2 linked regions of the Homo sapiens genome follow. The protein of the gene in region 1 purifies or fractionates together with the protein of each later gene. This does not show direct contact. Each region holds a gene or a part of one and is shown on either strand. Other genes may lie near its edges.

Region 1 (3,500 bases):
GGGTAATGTAGGGAAGGAGGAAATGATTAGTATCTGCAGTACAGAGGACTTTTTATTCCCCCGGGTGTCTATTAAAATAGATCTGGATAATGGTGATGAATCATATTTAATTCAATCACCTTTTTTTTTTTTAATAAACTAAACACAGTGCTGACAATACTTGGGAACCTGAAGAAAATTTAGATTGTCCAGAATTGATTGAAGCGTTTCTTAACTCTCAGAAAGCTGGCAAAGAAAAAGATGGTACAAAAAGAAAATCTTTATCTGACAGTGAATCTGATGACAGCAAATCAAAGAAGAAAAGAGATGCTGTAAGTATAAAATATTGCCCACCAGCTTGTCCTTTTGTAAAAGGTTGATGGCTTGATTTCTTTTTTGTTTGTTTGTTTTTTTGAGATGGAGTCTTGCTCTTGTCGCCCAGGCTGGAGTGCAATGGCATGATCTTGGTCACTGCAACTGCCGCCTCCTGGGTTCAAGCGATTCTCCTGCCTGAGCCTCCCAAGTAGCTGGGATTATAGGTGCCCACCACCACGCCCAGCTAATTTTGGTACTTTTAGTAGAGATGGGGTTTTGCCATGTTGGCCAGGCTGGTCTTGAACTCCTGACCTCATGATCCTCCCGCCTCGGCCTCCCAAAGTGTTGGGATTGTAGGCATGAGCCACCACGCCTGGCCTTTTTTTTTTTTTTTTTTTTTTTTTTTTTTTTTTCCTGGGAGACAGAGTCTCCCTCTGTCACCCAGGCTGGAGTGTAGTGGTGCAGTTTCGGCTCACTGCAACCTCCGCCTCCAGAGTAGCTGGGATTACAAGCGTGTACCACCACACCCAGCTGGTTTTTGTATATTTAGTAGAGACGGGGTTTCACCATGTTGGCCAGACTGATCTCAAACTCCTGACATCAGGTGATCCACCCGCCTCGGCCTCCCAGAGTGCTGGGATTACAGGCGTGAACCACCACACCAAGCCCACCTTTGACGACTTGCTTTTTTAAAATTCAGATACTTTTATAAAAGGCCTCTTAATCGTATTTTAAATATTTTAATACTTAGGACAATAAGGATGGGCGTGGTTTAGCCTACTTTGTGTAAATGTGCAGTAAGTGCTCATGCCACTTAGGTTGTGCTAGTGCAATTTTTCTTAGTTTCATGGATTTGATCCCTGATCAGACCAATTACCTGTGATCCAAGGCTAGCAATCTTAAATACAAACAATACTAAGATTGGATTATCGAAAGCCTTTGCACTACAGTAAGAACAACGCAAATAGAACTTTCTGATTATAGTCCATCAATGGCATTGACCACCGAAAAGTACTTGCATGTCATCTTTGTATTGCCAAACAATACCTTGATTTTGAAGTCTGTAATCTTTGATAATAGTTAAACACTTTTCTTGGCATGAATTGAGACATTCAGTTCATTCACTATACATGTGTTTTGGTCCAGTCTTTGCTTTACTTATGTCTCTGTGGCGTCAGGCAAATCAGGTAACTTCTTACTTACACCCTTGATTGTAAAACAGATTATACTTGTCTTGCCTACTGACCTAGTGTGGCAATTTGGGGAAACATCTTGGTGCTGAATTAGGTTCTAGGCTCAGGCACTAAACATGATTTAAAACTTGATCATTTGAACTAGAAGCCAAGTACAACCTTCAAGACAACTCTGTATAAGGTCATAGGTATAATCACTATTTTACAGATGAGGAAACGAGATTGACTACAAATTTGGTTTTGAAAATAAATCACATGCTCAACAGAAGCAGTTTTGGCCAGGCACGGTGGCTCGCACCTATAATCCCAGCACCTTGGGAAACCAAAGCAGGAACATCGCTTGAGCCCAGGAGTTGGAGGCCAGTTTGGGCAACATAGTGAGACCCCATCTCTACAAAGAAAAAAAAAAGAATCAGCAAGACGTGGTGGACACCTCCTGTAGTCTCAGCTACTTGGGAGGCTGAGGCAGAAGGATTGCTTGAGCCTGGGAGTTCAAGGTGCAGTGAGCTGTGATCATGCCAGTGCACTTTGGCCTAGGCAACGGAGCAAGACCTTGTCTCAAAAAATTATTAAATAATAAATCAGGCACAACTTTAACAACACTTATTGAGTCCTTAGCATGTGCTATACTGTGTGCCAAATTATTTGCTTTTAATGTGCTGTGAAATATCTGTGCAGTAGATACTAAAATTCTGTTTTATTAACCTAAACCACAAAGAGGTTAATTAACTTGCCCAAAGCCACACAGCTCGTAAGTGGGGTAGGTCCATCATTCTCACCCAGGCAGTGTGACTCCAGAGCTTGTGACATTGATGTAAAACTCTGACAGGAATAAAGGATTTATTGATATCATTGGTTCTCAAACTTTTTTTGGTCTCAGGGCCTCTTTATACTCTAAAAAAATTATTGAGGATCCCCAGAGAGCTTTTGTTTATATGGGTTATAATTATCAATACTAACAGTAGAAATTAAAACAAATTTCTAAAATGACTTTTCTAAAAAAGCTGAGAAGAGTAGCATTTTACATTTTTACAGATATTCAACATGTGTCTTAAGGCAATTTTACTTAAACACATTTGATTGCTGTGGCGGATCATTTTGGTGGAGGTATATGAAGACAATCCAAAGTCACAAATAGATGAAAAAAGGGGGCCTTACACAACCCCCTCCCAAAAAGGACTCTGGAATCCCCAGTGAATCCGTAGACCACATTTTGAGAGCCACTGGTTTATATTAAGTACTTTCTAGCGCAGGGGGTCCAATCTTTTGGCAGCCCTGGGCCACATTAGGAGAATTGTCGAGGGCTACACATAAAATAGACTTAATACCAACCATAGCTGATGAGCTAAAAAAAAAAAAAAAAAAAATCGCAAGAAAGTTTCAATGTTTTAAGAAAGTTTACAAATTTGTGTTGGGCCTCCAAAGCCATCCTGGGCCACAGGTTACACAAGTTTGTTCTAACATTTACTATCATTTAGAATGATTACAGATAGTTGGTATGAGTTTTAACATTTTTAATATTTCTTACCGTTTGTGTTTTGTTTATGCTTTTAAAATGTGTCAGTAATTCAGACTAATTCCTGGAAGTCATTTGAAATATATTAACTTTCAAGACTTTATTATTACCAGAAATAAAGAGGTTAGTTTTTCTGTATGCCCACACAACTCTGACTTTGGTGTCATTGAACGCAGTAATTTTCTTGACTTTTTATTCTGAATGTTTTCAGAAATTTTAAGTATTCTACGTTGAGTATCAAACTCAGGTTTTTCTGCTTGTAAAGTTAATGGAAATCAGATGTTTTTAATTACCAAATATGGGTTCTTGCTCTAGTCATTTCCATCTCACTATTGGAATGTTTTTATTTAAAATACGCCATGAAAACAATTTAATACTCTGAGTTTGCTGTATGAAAAAATGTCTTCTAAACAGGCTGACAAACCAAGAGGATTTGCCAGAGGTCTTGATCCTGAAAGAATAATTGGTGCCACAGACAGCAGTGGAGAATTGATGTT
Region 2 (3,500 bases), on another chromosome or scaffold:
CCATATAATTCTTCATTGTGGTGTGCTGTGCATTGCATTGTGGGACATTTAGCAGAATCCCTGGCCTCTACCCACTGGATGTGAATAGCATCCCTTTGAGCCCTCCCTGCATCATGACAACCAAAAACATCTCTAGACTGTGTCAAATGGCCCCCGAGGACAGAGGGGTCAGAATTGCCTCCACCTTGTACATAATTGGCTCTACATATGTATTTGCTAACTTGATTATTTGCAGAATTTAACAGTTTACCCTTTGACACTTTTATTTGCAGCCATGGATTGCAAAGATAGACCAGCTTTTCCAGTTAAGAAGTTAATACAAGGTAATTATTTGGAAATGGGTTAAAGAGTTGTTCGTAGTTTATAGTCTTCCTTGTCTCTTGTTGGAGACCTCAGTGGAAGCCTGGAGCTAGAGGGGAGAGAAACAGTCCTTCTTCAGACCAGGAAGCTGGGAAAATGCTTTTCACACAGTAATGTCTCGTGGGGTTCCCACAAGTAAACCCCGAGGCCTCCACTTATGCACGATTGGTGTTTTGTAACTTGCAGCTGGGAGCTCTCCTGTATGTTGTAGGGAGCGTAGCAGCATCCCTGGCCTCTTCCCACCGGATGCCAGTAAGTGCATCCTCCAAGTCGTAACAACCAAAAATATCTCTATACGTGGCTGATGTCCCCTGGGAGGTAGAACTGCCCCCTCAGAGAACCACTGTTGTCCTGGAAGATAAATGCTCCCAAATCCTTCTGCATAAAACGGGGAGTGTGTTCACCCTTGGGCCAGATGAGCGGTTGGATTGTAATTTTTTTTTTTTTTTTTTTGAGACGGAGTCTCATTCTGTTGCCCAGGCTGGAGTGCAGTGGTGCGATCTCTGCTCACTGCAACCTCCGCCTCCTGGGTTCAAGCAATTCTCCTCCTTCAGCCTCCCAAGTAGCTGGGATTACAGGCGCGTGCCACCACACCCAGCTAATTTTTCTATTTTTAGTAGAGATGGGGTTTTACCATGTTGGCCGGGATGGTCTCGATCTCCTGACCTTGTGATCCCCCTGCCTCAGCCTTTCAAAGTGCTGGGATTACAGGTGTGAGCCACCGCACCCGGCCCAGATTGTATTTTTAGAAACTACAGTTTTGGGTTTTTCAAACTTGGGCTGGGTGCAGTGTTGCATACCTGTAAAACCAGCTATTTGAGAGGCTGGGGTGGGAGGAGTGCTTGAGTCCAGGAGTTCAAGGCTGCGGTGAATTATAATGACACCACTGCTCTTCAGCCTGGATGACAGAGGAAGACTCTGTCTCTTGAAAAAAAGGGGGACGCCAGATGCTAGGCTCACACCTGTAATCCTAGCACTTTGGGAAGCTAAGGTGGGCGGATTGTCTGAGCTCAGGAGTTTGAAACCAGCCTGGCCAACATGGTGAAACCCCGTCTCTACTAAAATACAAAATAGCTGGGCATGGTAGGGGGCACCTGTAGTCCCAGCTACTCAGGAGGCCGAGGCAAGAGAATTGTTTGAACCCGGAAGGAAGAGGTTGCAGTGAGCCAAGGGTGCGCCACTGCACTCCAGCCTGGTGACAGAGCAAGACTCTGTCTCAAAACAAACAACTCCCCCCACACCCCCCCCAAAAAAAAACAGGTTTTTATTTGGTCTATTACATGATGAAATAGTTAATAAAAGATGCAATGGCATTGAAGTAAGTGAACATAGGTTCTTTGGGAAATTCACTCTCCAAAGTGTTTCTGTGTTCCTCCTAACCAGCCCGAAGCCTGGCAGACTCTGGGAGAACAGTTTGATTGATGAGAAAAGCCTAACAGAGCCTAGGGTGCTGAGGCCAGGAGAAAAAAAAAAAACCCTGTCCACAAATGTGTCTATATTTTCTACTTGAGAACCAGATGCAGTTATTATCAAATGAGATTTTCACCCATTAAAAATAAATTTGGAATATGAACTGCATCTGAAATAAACAAATGTCTCTTGAAATTCTGGCGATGGCTCTGCTAAAAGGCTTGTCAGGATTTTGTTTTTTAAGTTAGGATGTTGAAGCGGGGCATGGTGACTCACATCTGTAGTCCCAGCACCTTGGGAGGTGGAGGCGGGCAGATCACCTGAGGTCAGGAGTTTGAGACCAGCCTGGCCAACATGGCGAAACCCTGTCTCTACTAAAAATACAAAAATTAGCTGGGTGTAGTAGTGCATGCCTGTAATCCCAGCTACTTGAGAAGCTGAGGCAGGAGAATAGCTTGAACCCAGGAGGTGGAGGTTGCAGTGAGCTGAGGTGGCGCCATTGCACTCCAACATGGGTGACGAGCAAGACTGTCTCCAAAAGAAAAAAAAATAAGTAAAATTAGGATGTTAGAAAAGGATAGAATGAAAAGATAGCACCCCCCACCCCCTCTTTTTTTTTGAGACGAGGTCCCTTTTGCCCAGGCTGCAGAGTAGTTGCACCACCACAGCTCACTGCAGCCTCTACCTCCTGGGCTCAAGCGATCCTCCTGCCTCAGCCTCCCGAAGTGCTGGGATTATAGATGTAAGTCAGTGTACCTGGCTTCAGATAGCCCCTGCCCCGTCTTTTTTTTTTTTTTTTCTTTTGAGAGTTTCGCTCAGGTCGCCCAGGCTGGAGTGCAGTGGCGTGATCTCAGCTCACTGCAGGCTCCGCCCCCCGGGTTCACACCATTCTCCTGCCTCAGTCTCCCGAGTAGCTGGGAATGCAGGCGCCCGCCACCTCACCCGGCTAATTTTTTGTACTTTTAGTAGAGACGGGGTTTCACCGTGTTAGCCAGGATGGTCTCGATCTCCTGACCTTGTGATCCGCCTGCCTTGGCCTCCCGCACCCGGCCTTTTTTTTTTTTTTTTTTTTTTTTTTTTTTGAGAGGGAGTCTGTCTCTGTCGCCCAGGCTACAGTGCAGTGTTGGGATCTCAGCTCACTTCAACCTCTGCCTCCCAGGTTCAAGCGATTCTCCTACCTCAGCCTCCTCAGTAACTGGTATTACAGGCGTGTGCCACCATGGCCTGGCTAATTTTTGTAGTTTTAGAAAAGACGGGGTTTCACCATTTTGGTCTGGCTGGTCTCAAACTCCTGACCTTGTGATCTGCTTGCCTCGGCCTCCCCAAAGTGCTGGGATTACAGGCATGAGCCACCACACCCGGCCCAGATAGTCCCTTTTTAAACTTTAAAATTATCTCCCACCCCCATGTCCCAACAAATCAGTAATTTTCAAGCTCATGAGTGGTTGTAACTTTAAACGTTCACTAGAGATGGCTTTCTGTCTTTGTTTCAGCCCGTCTGCCGTTTAAGCGCCTGAATCTTGTCCCAAAGGGGAAAGCCGATGACATGTCAGACGATCAGGGTACTTCTGTGCAAAGTAAAAGCCCCGATTTAGAGGCCTCTTTGGACACCTTGGAAAACAACTGTCATGTGGGTTCTGACATAGACTTTAGACCGAAACTTGTCAACGGGAAGGGTCCCTTAGATAACTTTTTAAGAAATAGAATCGAAACCAGTATTGGCCAGAGCA

Evidence for each region.
Region 2: the proteins of CBX3 (region 1) and CHAF1A purify together in Homo sapiens (affinity purification with mass spectrometry; 5 studies listed by BioGRID and IntAct, with this or other methods). This does not show direct contact.

Annotation. Positions count from the first base shown.
Region 1 is NC_000007.14:26,208,245-26,211,744, forward strand, and holds part of CBX3 (chromobox protein homolog 3), read left to right. Parts: intron 1-148; coding exon 149-311; intron 312-3,417; coding exon 3,418-3,500.
Region 2 is NC_000019.10:4,405,640-4,409,139, forward strand, and holds part of CHAF1A (chromatin assembly factor 1 subunit A), read left to right. Parts: intron 1-272; coding exon 273-323; intron 324-3,263; coding exon 3,264-3,500. UniProt on the Homo sapiens protein: Acts as a component of the histone chaperone complex chromatin assembly factor 1 (CAF-1), which assembles histone octamers onto DNA during replication and repair.